Linked DNA regions of Homo sapiens: all the other regions are reported to be linked to region 1. The links are microRNA targets in miRTarBase. Many come from high-throughput screens and were not tested one by one. Region 1 holds a microRNA gene; each other region holds the end of a gene's coding sequence.

Region 1 (7,121 bases):
TGCAGGCTGACTTGCTGGAGAGCTCTGACTGAGGCTGGATGGGGAGGGGCTGCCACCCAGGACCATTCTCTCCCCAAGTTTGGCATCCAGGGGACAACTGGGTCTCTTTGTCAGCTACTTCTGGGCCTTGGGGCCAGATAGACAAACGAGTCTCCTACAAAGTCCAAGGGGCTCCTCTCTGTAACACGTTTTGAGTTTTTTGAAATTGCCCAAGAATTCCCTCACTAATAGATTACTACTTAGGAATCTTCATTTTTGGTTCTGTGTGCCATAACATACCCCGTTCTCTTTTCCCATTATTATCCTCCCCAAAACAACCACTGCCAGCCCCCTTATAAATTGTGGGAAGTGGGTGAATGTTCCCCTTTCCAAAGCTCTTGGAGCTTGTCTCTGAAATGCTTTCCTACTCAATGTCAGGAAATCAGATGTCGGTATTTACCTCAGCCTGGAATCTCCTTCCCAAGCCACCCTCCTGGGTGTGCCCTGGGCCAACACAATGATTCAGGTTACAAGGTCTGCAATAAGCTTCTGGTAACAGGACATTGTTCTGCGGTAACTGGCTATCTGGGACCTGTTAAAGGATACCCATGCTTGTTTCTCTGGAAGATTCCAGAGCTCTTCACTTCCATAATGGGTCCCCACCCAAGACTAGAAAAGCCAAGTGAAATCTCCTATCTGAATCTCTTGCTTTTGCTCTTGATGAAGAGCCATCCTTTTTTCCTCCTCCTCTCCCTTCCGTATCACCACTGTTTAGGAATATCTATAAGGAGTTCAAATCCAGTTATGCAAACCTTTGGGTTGAGGATGTCCCAGCTTTGCCCTGGCCACACCCATTCTAGGGAGGCCAAGCCATGCCTCCAGCTTCACATCTCACTGTCCAGAGCCTCCACATCCATGTCACATTTCTGCTCTGAGAACAATGCAGAAATACCACCCCTCCCCAGAGGGATTTAGGTAGGTGGCTTGCACCATCTGTCATCATCAACATGATCCAAAACCTGTTTTAAGTCATTAAAAATTTCTCTGAGTCATGGTCGTCAAAGATTCTCTTTGAGTACACAAATGTCCTAAATGTGGAGCCCTGTGACACACCATCATGTGACATTTTCTGTGGCCTCAGATACTGACCACTGATGCAACTTCCCAGTAGGATGTCTCAGTTAAGGCTCAAATCTCTATCCTCAGCCCAGGCCTCTCAGTTGTGGAAAACACCTTGGATTTGGGTGAATTAGTCATTTCCACAAAGGCAGTGGCTTCATTCCCGTAGCCACTATGGATCTCGTGCCTTGGGTGACAAGTCCTCATTCCTTGTCCCCAGGCATTCTGGCAACGTGGACCCCAGTGCCATTCATCTCCACTCTGGATGAAAGCTGTGGTTTCTTAGAAGTTCACATGTGGAAATGGGGCCTCAGTATCAGCCTCCACATCCTTCCTTCTTCAGGAAAATTCATCTTATGGGCAAATTCCAAATAACTTCAGAATCCACCAGAAGAATTATGCTTGGCCATGGTTACTCCCAGTTGAATAAAATCAGATCCTAATTTGTCTTCAACCTCCTGGCTGCAAATTTATCTCAATCATGTTTTCAGCCATTCCTCCTGGACTTGAACACAATTCCCAAAGATTCCGTAGAGTCCAAACATCAAAGGAAATGTTCTCTGTTCTTCAGCTCCAACTGTTCCCACAGAAGTACTCTCCATCCCTTTTAGATAAGCTGACTGAGCTGTTTGGACACAGGGACATGTCATCACTGTCCCCAAAGCCGTGACACTCAGTGTCCAGGGTCCTCACATTTTTCATGACCTCTATGTGCATGGGGCTGTCTTATCCCAGAGACTTGGGGTACAACCTCCACAACACCATCAACAACAAGAACATCCTCTGCATCCCCATGCCCTAGCTGTCCTTATCTCTCATCATGGAAAACTTCACACCATGACTTCTCCCTCTACTGGCAGTGTCCAGCATGCTTCCTCTCAGAAAACCCAGGCTTTCACAGATAATGGTTTGCCTTGTCTCCTAGTGGCCTAGACACTACTGCTTTTGGTCCTATCACCCAAAAACGTGAGCAAAATCTACAAAGGCAAGAGAGCACACACTCTTGGCCACAAAAGAGGGAGAAAAACATAACAGTGTCTCAGGATCTTGTTTTTCCCATGTGGTTATTAGCATTGCATCTGTATTTAGTCCATACGCTCTTGGTAAAAGAGCCTATGTTTGCTCTACTTTAACTCTGTTAACAGAAGTACAAATGTTGAAGAATGTGGCATCCATGAGTGCAGGAGGCCAGTGGGGGTGTGAGACGGTTGGGACTGGGTTGGTTATCTCTTGTCTATTTTTCACGTGAGAGTAATTTACATGATATTGGTTTGTGTTTTGACTTCTCAGGAGCTATCTTCTATCTGGAGTCTCATATTAGGTGAGATTGCTGCATGAAGGCAATACTTCTTTACAGAGTTTGCTGGCCACTGGTGAGCTAGACTACTTCTCTTCCTTTAGCTAGGATTGCATTTCTATTATTTTCAGAAATCAACAAAGTTTAAGACAGTAAGATCTCAGCATATAATCTCAATTCTTGTCATCAAATTATCTTACATCACTTATAAGATTCACCTCAATATTGTATCTAAATTTTCTCCTCTGAAAGCAGATGCCTTTTCTGCACAACAAAATGTTGACCTAGGCCTTACCTTGATAAAAGCTACCTCAAGCACCCTGAGGGCATTAGGAGGTGCAATAGGGACAATAAAGCTTGCTAATGTGATTGTGGGTGGCCTGGCAACTGGAGTGATGATGGGGAAAGCCTGGAAATCATTCCCTTCTGAGACCAGACAGCCTAAGCCGAAACCAGAGAAATGCATCACATACAAAGGAGGCAGCAGAGCTGTCTTCATAAATCGCAGCCTGTAGGCCTTTTAATGTGTCAGCGTAACCCGCCGTTAACGATATTTAATTGCTATCTACAGTAAGTTCCGTAGATCATTACCATACCAGTCATTTTTCAAAGATCCTCGTTAGCACAGGACTAGTGAACACAATAAACGATGTGACAGGAGATGGCTAGAGAAATGCTGCAGAGAATGAGCTCATGTAAGTCAGCCAGCTCATAGAGGAAACCCCCTATCTTTCTACTGGCACCATAATAAAATCCACCATGCACACTGGGCTATTTCCACTGCAGTGCATAAGACAAGAGAAATGGGTCACTATTGTGCTCCTGCTGGTTTCCTCTCCACCAATGCAGCTTGTTCCCTCACATAGTAAGGTGATGTCCACAATGCCTGGCTAGAACAGAAAAGATCTGACAACACCGATGTCCACACCTGAAGTGCCTGAAAATAGCACCTTCCTATGAACATTTAAGTTGGCAATCCATCCATTTGGGAGGTACATGTGTACTGTGAACCTACCCAGAACCAGGCACTTTGCTAAGGCATTGAGATTCAAGGTCAAGGGAGGCACAGTCCCCATGGACCTTGCAGCCGGGGACACAGCTAATGGACAGGAGACATTCATAGTCCAACTCACTTGCTTTATTTCAGTGACTTTATTTTCCATTTTGTTATTACCTTCTTTTTCAAGTCTCCTGTTGGAATTTGGATTATGTTACTTTATTTTTTCCTTTAAAATGCTTTTTGAATGATCAAAGGCCCATTTTAATCCCTCTATTGTCTGCAGCTCCTTAGAGGTGAATTCTCCTTTTACAGAGTCTGTTTGCCCTCAAGGTGATGAGTCTCCACAGGTGCTGGGGGCACACCTTCCTTAGGAATCATTCTCCCATGGAGTCTCAGAAATGCCTTGAGCTCTGCAGGCATCTTCACTGGAGCAATGATTTTTATGCTGGGCTTGAGACTTTTGGGTTGCAAGCTGTTCCACATCAGCTTTTACCTTAAATTCTTGCTCAGATTTTCCAAACAGCAAAGACAGTGTGAATGGAGGCCCCTTACACCAGCCACAGTTGGCGTTCTGACTCCTCTGTGTGACTCCTATCCCACACCAGGCCCAGTCCCAGCATTAGCTTTTGTGATGCATTCCTTGGTACAGAAGGCTAAGCATCGCTAATTTCTATTCAGAGACACAGGGACTCTACCCTTGTTCCTGGCTTTATAAAGCTGCTCAGTTCTAATGTGCACTGCACACAACAGCTGCCAGGGCCACAAACACCCCCAAGCAGACGTTAGGCTCTCAACCCCTAAGATACAGTTTTCCTCTCAATAGCTCATAAGACTCTGCCCTCTGACGTGAGAAAATAGAATTCTGTTGTGCTTTTTAAGTATGCCTATGGCATCTTTTAAAATATACCATATATGATCCAGTATTTCTTTGTGTTTGGAGTGTGAATCTGCAGGTGAAAGAGTGTGTTCTACACGTGCCCGATCCATCCTCATTACACAAATTCACCCTCTACTTTAAAACAGGGAATTTGGGCCTTTGACAGGAAAGAAGCCGGACAGTCATGGGGCCAAACTGGAATCAAATGTAAATATTTAATTTCCTCCTGTTAAAAGCAGAGTGGACCCACAGTCCCTCCCAAAGTAAAATGCACAATAATGTGTCAAGAGCCCTGGACTTATTGCTTCTCGGACGTTAGCAAAGATCAAGCGCAGACCACTGGCTTTGGGGTCTGATACCCCAGGAGAGTCCCGGTTTCGTGCTCATGTGTTATGTGACCCTTGACCCCTCGTTCAATTCTCACGTGCTTCACTCTCCTAAGCCATGCAAAAGGGACATAAGGATATCTCCTGAAAGCAGAGTCGGCTGGAAGGCTGGAAGGCTTATGTGAAGCAGTTGCATATCACTTAGCACTTAGAATGGGCAAATAAAAAATGGTTTAGCTTCTCCTTTGTGGGAACAGAGACTGGGATGGTTTGTATCCTGGCTCTCCTGAAACTGCGCTGCCGAGCTGGGCCCAATCTCTAGTTCAGCTCGCTTCAGAAAGCCAAAGGCAGAAGGCTGCAGGACCAGAGATTGAGCCTGGCCACACAGCCCCTTCTTCCTGATGCCACATGGCTGGTGATCCTGGTCACAGCCTGCCTGAGCTGGTGGAACACAGCTTTGTCGGACTGTTGAAGATAACCCTACAGAAAAATCACCTGGTGAAGGGCAAATGCGCATGTTTTGTCATAAGACCAACTGGGTTTCCTAAATCAGCCAAGCCGTTTATCCTGTGGTCTTGGCAACAGGCTGACCTTCCTTTTACAGAGGAGATGGTGATGCCTGGTCCCAGAGGAGCGCTGTGAGCACCCAGGCATGGATTACAGTGCTTAGCACAAAGTAACATTAAATGTGAATCTCTCTTCTAAAACTATGTTACAAAAAGCAGTAATTCATTCCAAGCAAGACTGTCAGTTTAGGTGAATCAAGTAATCATAATTTCTCTAAAACCTTTTTTCTACTGTAAAAGCTTTAATTTTTGTCTTTATTTTTATTGATACATCTTAGATGTGCATATTTTGGGAGTACATATGATAATTCAACACATTCATATAATCAAATCAGCATAATTGGGATATTTGTCACCTTAAATATTGATCTTTTCTTGATGCTATGAGCATTAGGTTAATGGGTACAAATGTACAGTTAGATAAAAAGAATAAGACCTGGTCTTCAATACATCATGGTGGCTATAGTTAACATTAACCATTGTACATTTCAAAATGCTAGAAGAGAATAATTCCAACACGTTTTTTGTTTGCTTACTTTTTTCTGAATTCTAATAGACTGATACATCAGTCCCTGCTGTAGCGAAAATAATGACTTCCTCAAAATGCACTTCAAGAATGTGACCTCAATGGATGTAACAGAAAGAACCTGCTCTTGGTGTTTGGGAAAGAAAAGGTGTTAGGCCCGCCACAATTCCTTCTCCTCCCAGGTGATTCAGAGTCCTGGAGGACAGAATACCTTGGGAACTTGAGTGAACTCCTTTCACCAGCCCAGCCTTGACTCAGATTCCAGCTCATATAGCTCACAAGCTCCACTGCCCAGGCCAAACCCCTCAAATGCTTAGGTTTTGTTTGTTTATTTGAAAGAGTTTTGCTCTTGTTGCCCAGGCTGGAGTGCAATGGCGCAATCTTGGCTCACTGCAACCTCCGCCTCCTGGGTTCAAGCGATTCTCCTGCATTAGCCTCCCGGGTAGCTGAGATTACAAGTACCCACCACCACGCCCGGCTAATTTTTTGTGTGTTTTTAGTAGAGACGGGGTCTCACCATGGTGGCCAGGCTGGTCTCAAACTCCTGACCTCAGGTGATCCGCCTGCCTCGGCCTCCCAAAGTGTTGGGATTACAGGCGTGAGCCACCACGCTCGGTCTAATGGTCAGGTTTTTATTCCTGTATATGTCAAGTAAGGACAATAAGAATTACTTCAAAGTGTTGTTAGGAGCTAATGCATGTAAAGCATTTATAAGAATTTTTGGCACCCAGCAGATGCTCAGAAACTTTTAGCTCATAATATTAGCATTGCTATAAAAATAACATTAATAAAAACCAACAACATTACTACCGTGAGAAAGTCATAATAATATACATCAAAGGATATTAATAATATACAATGACTTTCCCATATGCCATTTGTATGGCCAGAAAGCCAGACACAACTCCTGACTTCCTCCTGCGATTCAGACGACATTGCTTGGATGCAAACTTACCTGAAAGAACCACTTAATAGGTTTGTCACTCTAAGCAAATACTAGTGTTCAAGAAATGTTCTCAGGTGATCTAAAACACAGTCCAGAATACCTGCTTATGGCTTTTCAAATGTTTGCAATACAAGGCCTGCCTCTGTGCTCAGCTCCCAGAGAGAATTTTTCTAATAGATGCAGTTTTTCCTATTAGCAATGGAACATACACATTTGAAACCCAGCTGGCAGCCTCTATGATTGTAGGCTAAATCTCGTAAACAAAACTTAAATGTAAAGAAGTGTTTGTACTAGCTGCAAATGGGCTACTGGTTTGATGCCACAGGGGAAGTTGTTAGCAGGTGACATCAGAGGATGGATTAGTTAGGGTAACATTGTGAACCGAGAGACAGGAGAGATCTTGTCACTCACTGAAGGCGAGACTCTTCTAGAGAGTTGTTTTCTCCCCAAGATCTGCGCCTTTCCCCAGACTGAGTCAGGATCTC
Region 2 (7,121 bases), not on the chromosome of region 1:
TGGGCACTGGGGGAGGAGAACACAGCAGTTGAGAGACATAGAACTCAGTGCCAGACCAAGCTCAGCTGACACCTGCCCACCGAGGGAGCATTTAAGCCATGCCTAGACAGAGGGGATCGCTGATCACAGTGGTGGGGAACTTGAGTTCCTGCAAACCTTTAGCAACAAGAGCTAAGGTGCTCTAGGTCTGTAAAGAAATTTGAAAGGCAGTCTAGGCCATAAGTACTGCAACTCATAGGTGAGTCTTAGTGCTGAACTGGGCCCACAGATAGTGGACTGAAGGGGCATGCAACTTATGGAGAAACCAGCTGGGGTAGCCAAGGAAGTGCTGGCCTCACCCCTCCCCTAATCCCAGGCTGCAGAGCTCGAAGCTCCAAAAGAGCCTCCTTCCTTCTGCTTGATGAGAGAAGAGGGAAGAGTGGGGAGGACGTTGTCTGGCATCTCGGATACCAGCTCAGCCACAGCAGGACAGGGCACCGGTCAGATTTGTGAGGCCCTGTTCTAGGACCTAGCTCCTGGATGACATTTCTAGACACACCCTGGGTGAGAAGGGAACCCATTTCATTTAAGGGAAAGACCCAGTCCTGGAAGCATTCATCACCTGCTAACTGAAGAGCTCTTGGGCCCTGAATAACCAGCAGCGACACCCAGGTACTACATTGAGGGCCTTGGTGAGCCTCTGAGAATTGCTGGCTTCAGGTGAGACTTGGCACATTCCCACCTGTGCTGCAGGGCGAAGCTCCTTCTGCTTGCGAAAAGTGGAGGGAAAAGCAGAGGACCTTGTCTTGTCCTTTAGGTACCAGCATCACCACAGAGGGGCAGAGCACCAGGTGGGCTCTCGGGGTCCCCAGTTCCAGAACTTGACTCTTGGATGGCATCTCTGGACCTGCCCTGGGCCAGAATGGAGCCCCCTGCCTTGAAGGGTGAGTCCCAGGCCAGGCAGCGTTCACCACAAACTGACTGAAGAGCCCTCAGGCCTTAAGGGAACGTGAGTGGTGGTCCGGCGGTACTCCCCAGGGCCCGTGGTGGTGGTGGCTAAGGGGTGAGGCTCCCCTGCTTTTGGAAAGGGGAGGAAAGAGTGGGGGAGAACTGTGTCTTGTGGTTCAGTGCCAGCACAGCTTGAGTACAATAGAACACCAGGTAGGCTTCCAAGGTTTTTGACCCTAGTTCCTGACAGCACCTCTGGACCATCCAGGGTCTGGGGGAACTCGCTACCCTGAGGAGAAAGACACAGGCCTGGCTGGCTTTGCCAACAGCAGATGGCAGAGCCCCAGGGTGTTGAGTGAACATAGGCAGCAGCCAGGGAGTGGTTACAGACCCAGTGCTGTGCTGCCTTCAGGTCTGACCCAGTGCCGTCAGTGATGTGGCCACAGGGGTGCTTGTGTCACTCCACCCCAGCTTTAGGTGGCTCAGGACAGAGAGACTCCATTTGTTTGGAAGAAAGTAAGGGAAGAAAACAAGAGCTTCTGCCGGGTAATCCAGAGAGTTCTCCTGGATCTTATTCAAGACCATCAAGGTGGTGCACAGTGTTACTGGGCTTGGGGTGCTCCCTAAGGCAGATAGAGCATAGATCACAACACCAAGTCCTTTCAGATACCTGGAAGCCTTCCAAAGGAGGGGTACAAACAAGCTCAGACAGTGAAGACTATAATAAATGTCTACCTCTTCAATGGCCAGACACTGAAGAACATCTACTAGGTTAGTGCAAAAGTAACTGTGGTCTTTACTAGGTTAGTACAAAAGTAACTGTGGTTAGTGCAAAAGTAACTGTGGTCTTTACTAGCATCAATACCATCCAGGAAAACAGGACCTCACCAAACGACCTAAATAAGGCACCAGGAAGCAATCATGGAGAAACGAGATATGTCACCTTCCCGACAAAGAATTCAAAATAGCTGAGGAAACTCAATGAATTTAAGATGACACAGAGAAGGAATTCAGCATTCTATCAGATCAATTTAACATAGAGATTGAAATAATTAAAAAGATTCAAGCAGAGACTCTGGAGCTCAAAAATGCAACTGGCATACTGAAGAATGCATCAGAGTCCTTTAATAACAGACCTGATCAAGAAGAAGGAAGAATTAATAAACTTGAAGACATGCTATTTGAAAATACACGGTCAGGGGAGACAAAAGAAAAAAGAATAAAAAAAAATGAAGCATGTCTACAGGGTCTAGAAAATAGCCTCAAATGGGCAAATCTAAGAGTTATTGGCCTTTAAGAGGAGGTACAGACAGGGGCAGAAAGTTTATTCAAAGGGATAATAACAGAGAACTTCCCAAACATGGAGAAATATATCAATATCCAAGTACCAGCAGGCTATAGAACACCAAGCAGATTTAATCCAAAGAAGACTACCTCAAGGCATTTAATAATCAAACTCCCAAAGATCAAGGATAAAGAAAGCATCCTAAAAGCAGCAAGACAAAATAAACAAATATCCTATAATGGAACTCCAATATGTCTGGTAGCAGACTTTTCAGTGGAAACCTTACAGACCAGGAGAGTGGCATGACATACTTAAAGTGCTGAAAGAAAAAAAGTTTTACCCTAGAATAGTATATCTGGTGAAAATATCCTTCAAACATGGAGGAAAAATAAACTTTCCCCGACAAAAGCTGAGGGATTTCATCAACACTAGACCTGTACTATAAGAAATGCTGAAGGGACTATTTCAGTCAGAAAGAAAAGGGTGTCAATAAGCAATAAGTAATCACTTTGAAGGTACAAAACTCACTGGTGATAGTAAGTACATAGAAAAACACAGAATATCATAACACTCCCACTGTGGTGTGTAATACCCTTATCCTAAGCAGAAAGACTAAACAATGAACCAATAAAAAATAATTTTTCAAGACATAGACAGTACAATTAACATATAAATAGAAACAACAAAAAGCTAAAAAGCAGGGGGACAAAGTTAAGGGGGACAAAGGCAGCTCCAGAATTTCTGCTTGGTGTTTTCTAATTTCGTTAAGGGGACTAATAAAAACTAGAGTTTTTTATTGTTGTCTTTTTGTGTGTTTATGCAAACAGTGCTAACTTGTGACCAGCTTAAAATAATGGGTTATAAGATAGTATCTGCAAGCCTCATGGTAGCCTCAAACCAGAAAACATACAATGGATACACAAAAAATAAAAAGTGAGAAACTAAATAATATCACCAGAGAAAATCACCTTCACTAAAGGAAGACAGGAAGGCAAGAAAGAAGGCCACAAAACAACCAGAAAACAAGTAATATGGCAGGAGTAAATCCTTACTTATAAATAATAATGAATGTAAATGGATTGAACTTTCCAATCAAAAGACATAGAGTGGCCGAATGGATGAAAAATCACTTTACCATGTAATGATCCCTCTAGTGTTTTCCCCTCCAAACATCTTTTGATTGTATTGTCAAAGTTGATCAAGTTATTGGTGTTACAAAAAAAATCCACTTGGTCACAGGGCTCCACTGAGGATAAATGAATTAAAGTATAGCATAAACAATACTTTAAAACAGTATCAATCTTGTCATTGCATTGTCCTATCAATATTCCATAGTTACAGATATGAAGAGGCAGAAACTCTTTGATGTGGACAATCAGCCTTCCAATTGAAACAAGGCTTTGTGTATCCTCTGCCTGAGAAGCTGCCCTTTCTCTGTTAGCTACCAGCTCTCTTAATAGATGTTATAAGAAATTAATTTTAAAAGAATATTGTATATTTCTTGTAGTGAAGAAACATTTATTCAAAATTCAGCCTTTTCTTTGGTTTCACTTTTCCTGTTAAATTAAAAACTTATATAACTACTTTGGATTAAAAAGTTATATATAATATTTATATATAATTTGTATAAATATATATTTATATAAAATATTATTTGTATAAATATTTATATAAATATTTGCATAAATATATATTTATATATTATTTGTATATACATTTATATAAATATTTGCATAAATATATTTATATAAAATATTATTTGCATATATTTATATAAAATATTTGCATATATATTTATATAAAATATTATTTGCATACATATTTATACAAAATATTATTTGCATATATTTATATAAAATATTATTTGCATGAACATATTTATATATTTGCATATATATTTATATAAATATTATCTGTATATATATTTATATATTATTTGTATATATATTTATATAAAATATTTATAAATATATAGTATGATTTTCATGTATGCATCTATGCATCCTCCCTGCTTCTTCCATTTAGTGAACTGTATTCACTAACTGTTAGTGACTGTTTCTTCTGGATGGTGAGATTTTTTTTCTTCACATTTTTATTTTTTTAGAGATGGGCCCTGGCTCTGTTGCCCAGGCTGGAGTGCAACGGTGCAATCCTAACTCACTGCAGCCTTGAACTCTTGGGCTCAAGTGGTCCTCCTGCCTCAGCCTCCTGAGTAGTTGGGACTACAGGCACATACCACTACACCTGGCTAATTTTCAAATTTTTTTTTTAGAGATGGGGTCTCACTACATTGCCCAGGCTGGTCACAAACTCCAGGCTTCAAGCGATCCTCCTGCTTCCCCAACCTCCCAAAGTGCTGGGATTACAAGCGTGAGCCACCATTCACTCTTTAAAGACTTTTCTGATGAGCTCGGTTGTGATATAAATAAGTGATTTTGGTATGGAATAATGAACAACATTTGGAAATTTCTATCATCCAGTGAACTGTTATTTTCCAAACAACAATGCAGATGTTAAGAATCACATCTGGGTAAAAGTTCCATTCAGGGTGCAAGACAGGTCAATGTGTCGTAATGCATCAGGACATGAAAGTTCATTGATATGATTTCAGATTCCACATGGCAGCTAACCTTTTCTTTTTCAAAATAACTTTTGTTTTGAAATAGTTGAAGACTCACAAGAAGTTGCAAAAATAGTATAGAGAGTTCTACATATCCTTCACCCACCTCCCCCCAATGATGGTATCTTACACAACCAGATAAATACCAGGAAAATGATGTGGGCACAATTCTATTAATTCGAATACAGCCCTCAGTAGCATTTCACCAGTTTTTATATGCACTCGTTTCTTTTCTTTTTGTCCAACTAACCTTCAGCAAACTAACATTTGTTGAGTTTTGGTGTTGGCATCAAAAAAGATTTGGTGTTGGTATCAAAAAAGAACATCCACAATAATCAGAAAAAGGACATTAAAATATGCCTCCTCTTTCCAACTACTGATCTGAGGCTGGATTTTCTTCATATATATATAATAATTATTATTTTTTGAGATGGAGTCTCACTCTGTCACCCAGGCTGGAGTGCAATGGCACAATCTTGTCTCACTGCAACCTCTGCCTCCCTGGTTCAAGCGATTCTTCCACCTCAGCCTCCCAAGTAGCTGGGATTACAGGCACCTGTCATCATGCCTGGCTAATTTTTGTATTTTTGTAGAGACAGGGTTTCACCATGTTGGCCAGGCTGGTCTTGAACTCCTGACCTCAGGTGATCTGCCCCCGCCTCAGCCTCCCAAAGTGCTGAGATTACAGGTGTGAGCCACTCTGCCCAGCCGATTTTCTTCTTATATTGTAACCAAACACACATATCACAACAGGTCAAACACAAAATCCAACTAGCTTCAATTAGGCCAGGCATTAAAGAGGTTTGTAAAAATGTAAAACATTATCACTTTTCTCATTAAACATTTATTTTTTCATTTTAAAGACAAGAGTCTCACTCTGTTGTCCTGGCTGGAGTACAGTGGTACAATCATGGCTCACTGCAGCCTTGAACTCGGCTGAAACAATACTCTTTCCTCAGCCACCTGAGTAGCTGGGACCACAGGTGTGTGCCATCACGCCCAGCTAATTTTTTGAAGTTTTTGGAGAGATGAGGGTCTCACTATGTTTCCCAGGCTGATCTCAAACACCTGGGCTCAAGTGATACCCCCACTCTGGCCTCCCAAAGTGCTGGGTCTCACTGAATTTTTTTGTTTTGGAAAATATAGTTACTTTTCCTTCAAGTGTTTCATTAATATGCAATAGATTCCTTATAAATGAATACTTTTTTATCTTAGTTTTCATCTCAAATGCCATAAACACTGATACATGTAACCCTCATAAACCAAAGCGCCTTGGGGCCCTCAGTGGTTTGTAGGATTCTAAGAGCTCTGTGCTCCCTAAGGTAATCTGGGTGCCTCCTCCCACAGAGCTCCTGGACTCTAACAAAGTCCAGAACCTTTTCATTCATTGATTTAAACACACATATTTGGGTCACACCATAGCTTATTCAGAGGAAATTAAAAGTTCAGAAGCTTCTAGAGTGATTGTCAATGGGGGAAAATATGATACAAACTGTATATTAAAGTGATCTTTTATTAAACTATTTACTGCTTAGTCTAAATTCAGGTAGAGCAGTCAAAGAAAGTTATCCATCAACTTTGTTGAATTCATATCTTTCATTTTAGAATAACAGCAGACTTTAAGCATGTATTATTTTTCCAGTGTTCAGCTTAGTCTAAGACTGTGTGAGTCTGGTTTGATCCATTGCCGTGAAGAATACACAGACAGCAGCTGTAATGAGCAGGTGCATTCCCTCGTAGAGAAGTTTTGGAGAAAATACACTCCATATAAATAAATGATAACGCAGAGATGTCACCAAAACGATGTACGTGAAAACTGGAATAGAACAAATCAGTGCGTAGCAGAAGCAAGCATGACTCAGTGCTGAACCACTGTTAATAAGAAAGAAAATGTGTATTAGCACATGCCACTTACATATCACACATGTAACAACACTTTTATTTTCAAAAAGACTCCAGTAGCTCTTGCCCTTGGAGTAGAGGGCACCGCGTTCCTTCTTCTGCACACACATCCAGTCACTATGGTGCTGGGACAGGTGCCTCTCCAGATGCGCTGGAGACGGGAAAACCCAACCTGCCCCCTTGGAGGCTGTGTTCTAGTGAAGGAGGCAGGAGAAACCAGATATGTAACATGTCAGGAAGAGACAAATTCATGAAGAAAAATGAAGCAAACAGAAGGATGGGTGAGGGCCACCATGTCCCCCCCCACACACACCTTGAGCTCTCCAGAAATGCTTCTGAAACTTGACTGTATGTAAAAATCACCTACAGTATGTGCTGGAAGTGCCA
Region 3 (7,121 bases), not on the chromosome of region 1:
AGCCCAGTGAGCAGAGATGCCAAGAGGATTAGGGGAGAGAAAGCTGGCCTGCAATTGGTTGGGAGAAGACCCCAGCGAGGCAGAAACCTAGGGTTTTCTGACCGTGTTCTCTCTGGCAGCGCTGGAGGAGCTGACCTTTGACCCGAGCTCTGCGCACCCGAGCCTGGTGGTGTCTTCCTCTGGCCGCCGCGTGGAGTGCTCGGAGCAGAAGGCGCCGCCGGCCGGGGAGGACCCGCGCCAGTTCGACAAGGCGGTGGCGGTGGTGGCGCACCAGCAGCTCTCCGAGGGCGAGCACTACTGGGAGGTGGATGTTGGCGACAAGCCGCGCTGGGCGCTGGGCGTGATCGCGGCCGAGGCCCCCCGCCGCGGGCGCCTGCACGCGGTGCCCTCGCAGGGCCTGTGGCTGCTGGGGCTGCGCGAGGGCAAGATCCTGGAGGCACACGTGGAGGCCAAGGAGCCGCGCGCTCTGCGCAGCCCCGAGAGGCGGCCCACGCGCATTGGCCTTTACCTGAGCTTCGGCGACGGCGTCCTCTCCTTCTACGATGCCAGCGACGCCGACGCGCTCGTGCCGCTTTTTGCCTTCCACGAGCGCCTGCCCAGGCCCGTGTACCCCTTCTTCGACGTGTGCTGGCACGACAAGGGCAAGAATGCCCAGCCGCTGCTGCTCGTGGGTCCCGAAGGCGCCGAGGCCTGAGCCGCCGGACGGGTAGTGGAGGGGCGCGGGGGCCTGGGTTGAAGCTTAGGTCTCCTTGGTCGGGTCTGACGGGAGAAGGGTGGGGAGCGGGTTGCCAGGGCCCAGGGGGCTGGGAACTGGGGGATCTCCCAGAATACTGACAAGCGTGGGGTAGGACTGGCTTGGTGGCTCATGCCTGTAATCCCAGCACTTTGGGAGACGGAGGCGGGTGGATCACCTGAGGTCAGGAGTTCAAGACCAGCCTGGCCAACATGGTGAAACTCCTCTCTACTGAAAATACAAAAATGAGCTGGGCGCGGTGGCATACGCCTGTAATCCCAGCTAGTTGGGAGGCTGAGGCAGGATAATTGCTTGAACCCAGGAGGTGGAGGTTGCAGTGAGCAGACATTGCGGCACTGCACTCTAGCCTGGGTGACAAGAGTGAGACTCTGTCTCAAAAAAAAAAAAAAGTGTGGGGGTTGGCATGGCCTGGGGACTGCTGGTGAGGGGTTGGAGTGACGCTGGGGACAAGACCCAGTGGGGTAGGGAGATCTGGAGTCAGGTCAGTGGGGAAATCAGAATTTGGGAACCAGGAGGCCTGAGAATTCCAGGAAGAAACTAAGGTTGAGCGAGGGAGGGACAGGGCCAGGTTGGGGGATTGATGGGAGGAGCTTGAGAACCTGTAGATAAGGGGCTCCTTTTGCCTCACACTCCCCTCCTCCTTAGGCCTTGGGTCCCCCGCTCCAGATTCACCTTACCCAAAAGCCTTCTCCTTAGTTCTCCACCTTAGGCATGCATTAAAATCACCTTTTTAAAGCCCTTAGCCATGACTTGTTAAAGCATAGGGTGCTAAGTTTCTGATTTAGTAGGTTGGACAGGTCAAAAATGCTCATTTCTTTTTTTTATTTCTTTTTTTTTTTTTTTTTTTTTTTTTTGAGACAGAGTCTTGCTCTGTCACTCAAGGCTAGAGTGCAGTGGTGCCATCTCGGCTCACTGCAACCTCTGCCTCCAGGGTTCAAGCAATTCTCATGCCTCAGCCTCCCAAGTAGCTGGGACTACAGACGCCCGCCACCACACCTGGCTATTTATTTTTATTTTTAGTAGGGGTTTCACTATGTTGGCCAAGCTGGTCTCGAACTCCTGACCTCAAGTGATTCACCCGCCTTGGCCTCCCATAGTGCTGGGATTACAGACATGAGCCACTGCACCTGGCTGAAAATGCTCATTTTTTTTTTTTTAATTTAGTTTTTGTAGAAATGGTGTCTCGTTACATTGCCCAGGCTGATCTTGAACTCTTGGCCTCAGGTGATCCTCCTGCCTTGGCCTTCCAAGTGCTGGGATTACAGGTGTGAGCCACCACGCCCTGCCAAAAATGTGCATTTCTAGCAGGTTCCCAGGTGACGCTGCTGGCCACAGGGGCTGACGCTGCGGGAAGCCCTGACCTAGTGCACAACCCATTGGGCTCTTCACTGTCAGTGTAGAGGCATAGGTCCAAAATATGTTTCCCCAGTCAAAAACATGTAAGGTTTGCACCAGGAGTGGAAGGAAACAAACAAACATAAACCAAAGCAAAGACACTTAAGGGCTGGGTACTCATGCCTGTAAACCCAACACTTTGGGAGTTTGAGGCAGGAGGCTCATTTGAGGCCAGGAGTTTGAGACCAGCCTGGGGAACATAGTGAGACCCTGTTGCAACAAAAACCAGAAAAACAACAAAAAGAAGACATTGGAAAATGGCTGGAGCTGATTCTAGGTGAATAAACAACCCTCGACTTAACTTGCTTTGCCTCTGGGATATGTTTATCGAGCGTCTTGAACGTTGAGGAAGCCAGCCAAGAGAAAGAGCCTGATGCCAAGGTCACACTGGTCCCTGCTGCTCATGGGGAAGAGAAGGCCCCCAACTAGATGTCCCAGAACTGGCCGCTCCCCACTTACTTGCTGGTTCACACCTTCTTTGGTTTTAGCGCACAGGGCATTTCTTGGGCTCTGGAGTAACCACTGAGGCCAGAGTGAGAGTCCCTCTTCCCTGGAGGGAGAGGCCTTTGGGGATCCAGACAGGCTTCTCTCCTGAGGGAAGACGCTGGCCTGGGGTCACTCATTTTCACGGGGAGGGTGTGCTGGCGGGATGGGTGGAAGGGCCTGGGGCCCCGGCAGCCCATTGCGGAGGTTTTCTCGGGAGATGGTGGGTATGGGACTAAGGGTGAAAGGGAAGTTGTGAGTTGGGTAAGAAAGGCCTGAGGATCTGGCAGGGGAAGGCGGCACACCTGGGTGTGTCTCCCAGAGGAAGGCCTGTGGAGCCCTGGCTTCAGGAGACAGAAGAGAGGATTAACGGTAGAAGCTCTTTCATGTTAGAAAATAAAACAATATAGCTAAGGGATTATTTGGTTGTAAAATCCAACACCATTAATAAAACTGTTATATTCTGACTCCTTCCTCATTAAATCCACATGAAAAGACATGTGACCTACTGCAAGGCCTCCTAATTGCCCTCCAGCCTTTAATCCTGACTTGGTAATGTTTCCAAAAATGCAAATGTGGTCACGGGACTCAGTTGCTCAAAACTTTCAACAACTCCCTCTTGCCTACAGGATAAAGCCCCCAGTCTTTGGCTTAGCATTTGAGCTGTTCTGCCATTTTTTTTGTTGGTTGGTTTGTTTGTTTTGTTTGAGACAGAGTCTCGCTCTGTCGCCCAGGCTGGAGTGCAGTGGTGTGATCACCGTAACCTCCGCCTCCTAGGTTCAAGGGATTCTCCTGCCTCAGCCTCCCGAGTAGCTGGGATTACAGGTGCCCGCCAGGCTGGTCTCGAACTCCTGACCTCAGGTGATCCACCCATTTTGGCCTCCCAAAGTGCTGGGATTACAGGCTGGCCTTCCAGCTTCATCTGTTTTTAGTTAAAAAACAATTTTTTTTTTTGAGACAAGGTCTTGCTCTGTCGCACAGGCTGGAGTGCAATGGTGTGATTGTGGCTCACTGCAGCCTTGACCTCCTGGGCTCACATGATCCTCCCACTCCAGCCTCCTGAGTAGATAGGATGGCAGGCACCCATCACCATGCCTGACTATTTTTTATTTTTTGTATTTTGGTAGAGATGAGGTCTCACTATGTTGCTCATGCTGGTCTCGAGCTCCTGGCCTCAAGCGATCCTCCCATCTTGGCTTCCCAAAGTGTTGGGATTACAGGTGTGAGCCACTGAGCCCAGCCCAGCTTCATCTTTTATTTTATTATTATTTTTTGAGATGGAGTCTCACCGTGTCACCCAGGTTAGAGTGCAGTGGTGTGATCTTGGCTCACTGCAACCTCTGCCTCCCAGGTTCAAGTGATCCTCCTGCCTCAGCCTCCCGAGTAGCTGGGACTATAGGCAGGTGACACTACGCCTAGCTGATTTTTGTATTTCTAGTGGGGACAGGGGCTTCACTATGTTGGCCAGCCTGGTCTCGAACTCCTGACCTCAGGGGATCCCCCAACTCGGCCTCCCAAAGTACTAGGATTACAGGCTTGAACCGCCGCGCCCAGCCCCAGCTTCATCTTAAAAAGAAAAGTTCTCTGTTTTAATATCTAACAGGGCAAATATTGAAAGATAAAACCACATAACAAAAGCTCTTTGGGATCCTAGTGTTGGGGAAAGGCTGCTGTCCATTGACTGTCACTGAACTCTCTGTCATTGCTCAGGCTAAGGACTGGCCACAGTGAGGGAGGGACCTGTGGTCTCCTGTGTTGCTCCTCACCCTGTAGACTGTGGGCTGTGGGCTGTGTCCAGCCTCACCTTGGATCACCGCCCTGTGCATGTCTACACTCTGGCTATGCTGAACTGAACTGCTGGGGTCTCTGCACCTCCTTTTTTTTTTTTTTTTTTTTGAGATGCAGTCTTGCTCTGTCGCCCAGGCTGGAGTGCAATGGTGCTATCTCAGCTCACTGCAACCTCTGCCTCCCAGGTTCAAGTGATTCTCCTGCCTCAGCCTCCGCAGTAGCTAGGATTACAGGCACCCACCACCACGCCAGGTTAGTTTTTTCATTTTTATTTGTATTTTTAGTAGAGGCGGGGTTTTGCCATGTTGGCCAGGCTGATCTCGAACTCCTGACCTCAAATGATCTGCCCGCCTCAGCCTCCCAAAGTGCTGGGATTACAGGCATGAGCTGTCGGGCCTGGCCCCTGCACTTCTTTTTTAGGAATGTCAGTTCCCTCCCACTTATCCTTCATGGCTCTCCCAAAACACCACCATTTCCTGTCCTCTCTTGACCTTCTAGGCCTCCAGGAAGAATCAGTTACTCTCCTCTCTGGATCGCCCAGCAGCTCCTCCACCATGTGTAGCCCACGGCATTGAATTGTCTACACACAGGCCATGGTGTCTGGAGGGATGGTGGTATCTGAGACCCAAAGCCTCCTTCTGAGGAAATGGGTACTCTGAGAAGCAGATGCCAAGATAGGATTAAATGGGCAGAGATTTTAGGAGGGAAGATGCCCATGTGAGGGAAGATGGGGAGGGCCATCAGACCGTGTCGCAAGTCTGCTGTTCGTGTGGGAGGGAGGGAGGGAAGGCTCTTGTGGCGTCTCCGGCAGCCAGAGCCACCGTCCAAACACTCCTGTGCCTTCCGGGACCCGGGCTGGCTTTAGTCTCCCTGCAGAGCTGAGTAATGTATGCTGCCTTTTGTTGGAATTATATCAGGAAACTTTCTTTCGAAGCTGCCACAGGTTCTTTCTGCGTATAGTTGCCCCAGCTTGAGCTGCATGCATTGAAGGAAATGGCCCATGGCTGACTGAGTGAGGTGGGCTTTGTGGGAAAAGCTGCGTAATCCAGGTGGTCCTTGTCGGGTGGGGCTGCCTGACCCAGGCAGGGTCTCCCTGGGGATGTAGGAAGGTGAAATGTGAACAGAGAAAGGAGTTCCTCCAGCACATGTGTTCTAAAGCACCAGCGTCCCCTCCGTGAGTCCCTCCTCTCCACGGGAACGCTGGAAACCCCCAGAAACTGGCTGCCAAGACATTTCCTGTGTTTCCTGACATCTTTAGGTAGCATAATAGCAAACTTGAACCTGCCAAGGCCATGATAAAACTGCAAGCAAGAACATTTATCGTGGCCAGGTGCAGTGGCTCACGCCTGTAATCCCAGCACTTTTGGAGGTTGAGGCGGGTGAATCACCTGAGGTCAGGAGTTCGAGACCAGTCTGGTCAACATGGTGAAACCCCATCTTTACTAAAAATACAAAAATTAGCCAGGCATGGTGGTGCATGCCTGCAATCCCAGCTACTCAGGAGGCTGAGGCAGGAGAATCACTTGAACCTGGGAGGCAGAGGTTCCGATGAGCTGAGATCGGGCCACTGCATTCCAGTCTGGGTGAGAGAGTTAAAACAGGAATTAAAAGAAATTAAAGAATGTGTAAGCAAAAACTCAGTTGTATGTAAGAAAACCCCATTCACCCTGAGGAAGAGAAAGAGCTAAAGTCCTTTAAAAATTAACTGCCTGTTTTTCTGTGGATAGTGAGCCTTATCTCTCTCCCTTTCCCAGGCATTGTGAAGACCCTGTTTCTCTAGCTGTGCAGCTGCAAGGTCACTAGGCAGATAAACTCAAGTCATAAAACATGTTTTTCCTTGAAAAGTAAAAAATGATGTAATGCATGTCTCAACTGAATAACTGTCTTTGTTTCTTGCTTCTGTAATATGCTTCCCCCTGCACAGATCTCCCCCTGCCCCACAAAATGCTTAAAAGGTAACCGGAGCCGGGCGTGGTGGCTCACGCCTGTAATCCCAGCACTTTGGGAGGCTGAGGCAGGCGGATCATGAGGTCAGGAGATCGAGACCGTCCTGGTTAACATGTTGAAACCCCGTCTCTACTAAAAATACAAAAAATTAGCCGGGCGTGGTGGCAGGCACCTGTAGTCCCAGCTACTTGGGAGGCTGAGGCAGGAGAATGGCCTGAACCCGGGAGGCGGAGCTTGCAGTGAGCCGAGATGGCGCCACTACACTCCAGCCTGGGTGACAGAGCGAGACTCCGCCTCAAAAAAAAAAAAAAAAAAAGGTAACCGGACTCTTTGTTCAGGGCTCAGTCTTTTTGGATGTTAATCTGACCGGGCCAGTGCACCTAACTAAATAATAAATAATAAGTATCCTCCTCAACCTCTTGGTCTCTCTGATTCCTAAATTATCCCACTGCAGAATGAGACTCTGTCTCAAAGGAAAAAAAAGAAAATTTATTGAGACCTTATTATGCGTCAATAGCTCTCTATTCAGAATCTCACTGATCTTCGCAACCCTGGATCTCACAACAACGAGAGCCCCACTAGGTTGCCTCTTTTGTTTTGTTTTGTTTTTTTTTTGAGATGGAGTCTCACTGTCTCCCAGGCTGGAGTGCAGTGGCGTGATCTCGGCTCACTGCAACCTCCGCCCTCTGGGTTCACGCCATTCTCCTGCCTCAGCCTCCCAAGTAGCTGGGACTACAGGCGCCCGCCACCATGC
Region 4 (7,121 bases), not on the chromosome of region 1:
CTCTTACAAAGGCATGGTTCTAGTAATTGTGATATATAGGAAGGCAGAACACCTGAGTTCTGATCTCTGCCATAAGTGCTCGGACTTTTATCTTATTCTTCTTAGCACTGGGAGAATAAATTACTGTAGTCCATGAAATCCCCTGAAATCCCTTGGTAGTGCTTTTAGACTTGAAATTTTGAGGGTAAAGTTAAGACTTCCCCTCACAAGTGTTTTGGGATCTCTTGGCAGAATTCTCTTTTTTCCTGTTTCATTCTTGCTCTGTAGAGATTTTGAAGATTGGCATGCTATTTGATTTTATTTGGTTTTATTAAGCCTTTTATTAATAACAATATCTCTGAATTAGGAAAATGCAGGAATTTTATTTTATTTGAGATGGAGTTTCGCGCTTGTCGCCCAGGTTGGAGTGCAATGGCGTGATCTTGGCTCACTGCAATCTCCGCCTCCCACGTTGGTCAGGCTGGTCTTGAACTCCGGGCCTCAGTTGGTGATCCACCCGCCTCAGCCTCCCAAAGTGCTGTCATTACAGGCGTGAGTCACCATGCCCGGCCAAATGCAGGAATTTTATTTCCTCCAGTGCCTTCACCTCCTTCCTACATTCTTTCATATTTGGCTTCCTTTAGGTGCCAGCGTTTTTATGTGTCGATTTTTACCAACGACATTCTCAGCCAGAACTCGTGTCTTTCTGCTCCTGGCATTGGCATGATTTCTTTTTACCATAGCATTTTCCGCTTGGTTTTTCTAGTGTGCTTTGGCGCCAGAGGCTGTTGTATTTTCTTGTCCATTGTCAGTATATGTTTTCTGAATTTCACTTCCTGTTTCTATTCCACTTATAGTCATTTATGATTTATTTGGGCCTTCCCCACAGGTGACAGTTCCTTCTTTCTTCGAACCTGGCTCATGACCCCACTTCACATTCCTGAAACTCCAGCAGAATATCGCTATAACATGGCCCATTCTGCAACTCACAGTGTGATTGAGAAGACTTTCCGAACCCTCTGCTCCCGATTCCGCTGCCTGGATGGATCCAAGGGGGCACTGCAGTACTCACCAGAGAAATCCAGCCATATCATCTTGGCCTGTTGTGTCCTCCACAACATCTCCCTGGAGCATGGGATGGATGTTTGGTCCTCTCCAATGACAGGACCCATGGAACAGCCCCCGGAAGAGGAGTATGAGCACATGGAGTCCCTGGACTTAGAGGCTGACCGTATTCGTCAGGAGCTAATGCTCACTCATTTTAGCTAATGTAGAAGGTGGAGAGGAGGGATACTTCCCAGGAGTTGTGACAGACTTTCCTCCTCATCACCTTTTACACAGTTCCATCATCTAGCATGACTGAGTATACAGATACTTGTCATAAACTGACATTTAATATGTGTGTTTTGGTAAGGTTGGGGCTATGCCAGAATATCTTGATTCATTTGCATATGCATTAATTAAACTGAAACCAAGACAGCGGCTCCCTACTATCCAGTGAACTCTAGGTTGAGTACCACTAATTTGAAAGCTCAGTGGTTGCAAACATTTATGACTGTGCCTACAAAGTCATAGTAAAGGTCAGGAGTTCAAGACAAGACCAGCCTGGCCAACATGGTGAAACCCCGTCTCTACTAAAAATACAAAAATTAGCGGCCGGGTGCGGTGGCTCACGCCTGTAATCCCAGCACTTTGGGAGGCCGAGGCGGGCGGATCACCTGAGTTCAGGAGTTAAGACCAGCCTGGGCAACATGGCAAGACCCTGTCTCTACTAAAAATACAAAAAAATTAGCTGGGCGTGGTGACAGGTGCCTGTAATCCCAGCTACTCGGTAGGCTGAGGCAGGAGAATCACTTGAACCAGGGAGGCGGAGGTTGTGGTGAGCCGAGATCGTGCCATTGCACTCCAGCCTAGGCAAGAAGAGCGAAACTCCGTCTCAAAAAAAAAAAAAAAAAAAAATTAGCCGGGCGTGGTGGTACATGCCTGAAATCCCAGCTACTCGGGATGCTGAGGCAGGAGAATCGCTTGAACCTGGGAGTCGGAGGTTGCACTGAGCCAAGATCATGCCACTGCACTCCAGCCTGAGTGACAGAGCAAGGCTTTCTCCAAAAAAACAAACAAACAAACAAAAAAAAAACTCATAGTAAAGGGGAAAACAGCATATAGTCAAAACACTTTTTTGGTTTCAATTATCTGCAGATTTCAGATGAAAACAGTATTTACATAGGCCGGGTGTGGTGGCTTACGCCTATAATCCCATAATCCCAGCACGTTGGGAGGCCGAGGTGGGCAGATCACCTGAGGTCGGGAGTTCGACACCAGCCTGACCAAGCCTGAGCAACATGGTGAAACCCCGTCTCTACTAAAAAATACAAAAATTATCCGGGCGTGGTGGCACGCGCCTGTAATCCCAGCTACTCAGGAGGCTGAGGCAGGAGAATCACTTGAACACAGGAAGCAGAGGTTGCAGCGAGCCGAGATTGTGCCATCGCACTCCAGCCTGGGCAACCGAGCGAGACTCTGTCTCAAAAAAAAAAAAGAAAGAAAACAATATTTACTTGTTCTGGATTATTTGGGTGGTATTTTAGTTTTTCTACTTTGCTGCCTATATAGGCATAATCTGAGGCAAATGTGAAGAGAGAATTTCAGTTGGGGAATGATCTTCTGACATTAGTAAATGGCTACTAATCTCAGTTTGCAGCTTTGTGCTTTTAAGAGGATGTTAAAGACAGTCAGAAACCTCCATCTTTAGCCTGTCTGCAATAATTGGACTGTGACTTGGACCTAGATCCTAGGGAGAACATCTGGACTCCAGTTTCCTATTTCCAACCCTGACTCGGAGTTAGAGGCTAAATGGGTTTGAGAACCCAATCAGCTTAAAAAAGGCAATTCGAATATAGATAAAATAGCAAGCTTATGCTTTACAGGCGTTCTAAGGACTGAGAGAGATTGATGAGCAATGCAGATTCACCCAGGTTCAGACACCTCACATTCAACTAGATCACATTTCTTATAATTGTGATGTTAGAAAGTCTGGTCATTCTGTTTTGAAATTCGTTGTACAAAAGGAAGATTCAGGGAATAAAGAAGGCATGTGAAAGTATTACAAAGGAGAGGTAATAGGAATATAATTTCTTGGCTTGAAATGAATTCTGGTGCTAGACCTTGGATATGCAGAGTGATGGACAGAATTTCCTAAGAAATAAATAATCCCCTAGCAAGTCTTGTTCTAAAATTACACTGATATAAAAATAACCTGATTAGAATAATGAAAGTGTGAATTAGGTTCACACATTGGTGCCTTTGCTGGGACAAAAAAGAGACTTTCCTGAGGGTTGTCTTGTTCCAGTTTCTCAGCCACTCACCATGTGATACCTCTGACTTGTCCTCTTGGATCATTTCCTACCTCTTGCCTTTGGCAGTGTTAATCTGGTGATTTTCAAAGTAAAGAAATGAACAGCTGATGACAGAAGAAATTTGGAAATAAATTGAGGGTGACTCATCCTCAAGATTAAAAACAATTATGGATTATTATCTGCTGTTTTATTTCTACTCCAAATGCTATTCACCATCATTATCCTGCTCTATAAAGAGTGGGTCCATTTGGCAGAAGATTGTGCTTAATATGCACAGGGATGTCATTGAGGTGGGAATGGACAACGAAGAGTTGGCTAGAAACATTAACTCTATTCATTGTGCAACAGAGGTGCCCGGTTAACATTTTTTTCTTTGTAAAGTTCAACTTGTTTCCCTCATAAGGCAATGTTTTAATTCTTAAGGTCTTTCCTTTTTAAGTCTTCTAAGATGGGTATTTTCCCCATAAAGTTTTGGTTCTGTTTGGTAGATCGCATCAGGAAAGGGTTACTGCCCAACATGTATCATAAGTGGCAAGGTGAAGTGTGATCATGGAAAATGCCTTGCATTTTAGCCTTGTATAACTATATTTAAGGAAAATTGGAGTTTTTCACAACTTAACTCACTAGATGGTGACATAAAAGACTGAGTGGGATGGACAGTCTTGGAGAGATTTCAAAAGCAATTTCAAGTCTGTTTACTTGCACACCAAAGATAATCTAAGTGCTGAGCTGGCTGAACATTGGCTGACAGTGTTTTTCCCTGGGAGCATTTTATTTTCTAATAATCCCACAGGGAAACTCTTCAGATCTACACCTTTAACCTCCTTTCAACCTGTGGTTTTGCAGGCCAGGATTTTTTTTTTTCTTTTGTCATTGGTTAGTTATTTCCCCAAAATGATGGAGGGGAAGGATCAGGGTCTGTACTTCCAAATTGCCAAGGGTGTCCTCACAGGGGCTTTTTATAAGCGTCTGAGAAAGCTGCTCCCTTTGTGGTCCTTAGTGTGGATTTATAGCTTTTTTCTGGCATGGTTTTGGGAAAGAGTCAAGGATTTTGTCTGTCTTACGTAAGCCTCATTTTCCCATAGATAACTCCATCTGGCCAGCATAGTAGTTTTCCAGATTTACCCTTAGATGTTTCAAGGCAGTAAGGTCTCAGGATATATCAAGGGAAAACAATATTGGGTGATCACCAATTTACCAATTCCAGATTATACAAAAGAGGGACCATAAACATATTCTTGGTTTAAGTTAACTGAATAGGGATGAAGCTGTTTTCCTGATCCTAGGACTGTGAAGGATCTAGACCAAGTTAATCTAACTTAGGGATAAAAAACAAGACACAATTTTAGTGGAGTCATGTAGTGAAGACATAGAAGAAGTGGGTAACGGTGAAAGAGGCTAGACAGATCATAGATATAATAAGATTTTATCTGTATCTGAAACAAACGGAAAATAGCCCAAAGACTGAGCTTCGTAGTTACTTTCCCTGGCAGTGGAGGGGAAGTTAGAAGGAGGACAAGAAAATAAGAAATGAAAGGGTTTTTGTGCATACACATGTCCTCAGGGCCCATTTTGCTCTCTAGATCCTGCCAAGATTTTCCAAAATTGTTGTGGGTATGAGAAATCACAGATTCAGGATTAAGACTTTGTTGATTATGTGGAAAGGAAGGAAAAATACTAGCTGAAGGCTGGGGACATGCTAGTTTCCCAACACATAAAATTAATAGACTTTTTTTTTAATCACACAGAAATCCTTGTTCTAAAAAAAACCTTTTTTTTTTTTTTTTTGAGACAGGGTCTTGCTCTGTTGCCAAGGCTAGAGCAGTACAGTGGAGTGATCTCGGCTTACTGCAGCCTCCACCTTCCAGGCTCAAGTGATCCTCTGACGTCAGTCTTCCGAGTAGCTGGGACTACAGGCACACACCACCATACCCAGTTAATTCTTTTTTTTTTTTTTTGTAGCAATGGGGTTTTGCTAAGTTGCCCAACCTGGTCTCGAAATCCTGGATTCAATTGATCTGCCTGCCTTGGCCTCCTAAAAGTGCTGGGATTGCATGCCCCTGTGCCCGGCCCTGAATTTTTTTTTTTTTTTTTTTTTTTTTTTTTGAGATGGAGTCTCACTCTGTCACCCAGGCTGGAGTGCAGTGGCACGATCTCGGCTCACTGCAACCTCCGCCTCCCTGGTTCAAGCTATTCTCCTGCCTCAGCTTCCCGGGTAGCTAGGATTACAGGCACGTGCCACTGTGCCCAGCTTATTTTTGTATTTTTAGTAGAGACAGGGTTTCACCATGTTGGCCAGGATGGTCTCGATCTCCTGACCTTGTGATCCGTCCGCCTCGGCCTCTTAAAGTGCTGGGATTACAGGCGTGAGCCACTGCACCCGGCCCTGAATTTTTTTAAATTAACTTTTGTAGAGACAGGGTCTCACTCTGTCACCCAGGCTGGAGTGCAGTGGTGTGATTGTAGCTTATTACAGCCTTGAACTCTTGGGCTCAAGTGATCCTCCCACCTCAGCCTCCCAAGTAGCTAGGACTAGAAGTGTACACTACCATGCCTGGCTAATTTTTTTTTGGTACAGACAGGGTCTGACTATGTTGCTCAGGCTGGTCTTGAATTCCTGGCCTCAAGCAATCCTCCTGCCTTGGCCTCTCGAAGCGCTCTGAGATTATAGGGATTACAGGCATAAAGTACCGTGCCCAGCCTAAACTTTTTTTTTAACATGACTACAGGCTGGGCACAGTGGCTCACGCCTGTAATCCCAGCACTTTGGGAGGCCGAGGTAGGCAGATCACAAGGTCAAGAGATCGAGACCATCCTGGCCAACATGGTGAAACCCCGTCTCTACTAAAAGTACAAAAATTAGCTGGGCATGGTGGCGGGCGCCTGTCATCCCAGTTACTAGGGAGGCTGAGGCAGGAGAATCACTTAAACCTGGGAGGCAGAGATTGCAGTGAGCTGAGATCCTGTCATTGCAACTCCAGCAACAAGAGCAAAACTCCAAAAAAAAAAAAAGAGAAAAAAAAATGACTACAACTGAAGGCCTCTTGTGATTGTAAAGTAGAAGAAATTAGATCTCTGGATACTGAACAGGAGAAAGGAGATTAGACTTTGAAATCATAAATTAGCAAATTTCAAAAAGGGGCCTCCCTGTTTGCCCAGCAAAACATTAAGGATCTATTATTCTGTTGACATGTTAACTTTCTCTAATCTTTATGCTGTCTTTTACAGATGGGCTGATTTCTTTGTCATTCTAGAGCCTTAAAATATTCATACATTTTGATCTATTGATAAATTTCATCACTGGAGATTTATCTTATAGAAATAATTCCAAAGAAGGGAGAGCCTTCTATCATTCTACGGCTAGCAGTTCCCTGCTGTTCTGGGCTCTCTCTCCTTCCCTGGGCTGCTCCTACGTCACTATACTACTACCTTTACCATTCCATCATCAAGTGTATACATTACCCCACAGCACAAAAAGAACCGGCTAGAAAAGAACAGAACAGAATTGCAATGGCAGAATTGACAACTGGCTTACCATTTCAGCTGTTCAAGGCCTGACTGGTCTTCCTGCACTTCCTAGTAAGATGACTCACGGTACCATTACAGAATTATCTCACGCTAGGGTCAAACCTGATTTCTACCACCGAGTGTGTGGTAGAGGCATGTTTCTCAGAACCCAGAGCCAAGATAAGGAACAGTCTCCAATTCCCTGTTCTCTCCCCTCCCTCCTTCACCCTTCATTCCAGGCAAGTCTCCTAGGCAAGTGTGTCCCATCCTCATCCTCTT

What was found. Region 1 holds the annotated microRNA hsa-miR-7158-3p (CUGAACUAGAGAUUGGGCCCA, at 4,905-4,925, opposite strand). A microRNA usually pairs through its seed, bases 2 to 8, with sites in the 3' UTR of a target mRNA and lowers its output. Matches are read on the target gene's strand: a 7mer-m8 pairs with bases 2 to 8, a 7mer-A1 pairs with bases 2 to 7 and ends in A, and an 8mer does both.
Region 2: miRTarBase lists PIGG as a target of hsa-miR-7158-3p. Seed matches in the 3' UTR shown: 7mer-A1 at 5,759-5,765.
Region 3: the mRNA of TRIM72 is a reported target of hsa-miR-7158-3p. Seed matches in the 3' UTR shown: 7mer-A1 at 923-929.
Region 4: the mRNA of HARBI1 is a reported target of hsa-miR-7158-3p. Seed matches in the 3' UTR shown: 7mer-A1 at 1,566-1,572.

What each region holds. Positions count from the first base shown.
Region 1 is chr2:5,972,516-5,979,636 of GRCh38, reverse strand. MIR7158 (microRNA 7158) reads right to left here and starts at 4,975; the gene lies at 4,905-4,975. It overlaps SILC1 (sciatic injury induced lincRNA upregulator of SOX11), which reads right to left. Exons shown (of 2, transcript NR_026832.1): 2 at 1-7,121. RefSeq lists enhancers at 3,374-4,027, 4,907-5,408.
Region 2 is chr4:538,736-545,856 of GRCh38, reverse strand. PIGG (phosphatidylinositol glycan anchor biosynthesis class G (EMM blood group)) reads right to left here. Exons shown (of 13, transcript NM_001127178.3): 13 at 5,657-6,704. The coding sequence ends at 6,488. Among named protein-coding and RNA genes, the nearest start is that of TMEM271, 34 kb to the left of the region's middle.
Region 3 is chr16:31,224,062-31,231,182 of GRCh38, forward strand. TRIM72 (tripartite motif containing 72) reads left to right here. Exons shown (of 7, transcript NM_001008274.4): 7 at 120-7,121. The coding sequence ends at 694. Among named protein-coding and RNA genes, the nearest start is that of PYDC1, 10 kb to the left of the region's middle.
Region 4 is chr11:46,597,657-46,604,777 of GRCh38, reverse strand. HARBI1 (harbinger transposase derived 1) reads left to right here. Exons shown (of 3, transcript NM_173811.4): 3 at 869-1,917. The coding sequence ends at 1,248. Among named protein-coding and RNA genes, the nearest start is that of AMBRA1, 7.2 kb to the right of the region's middle.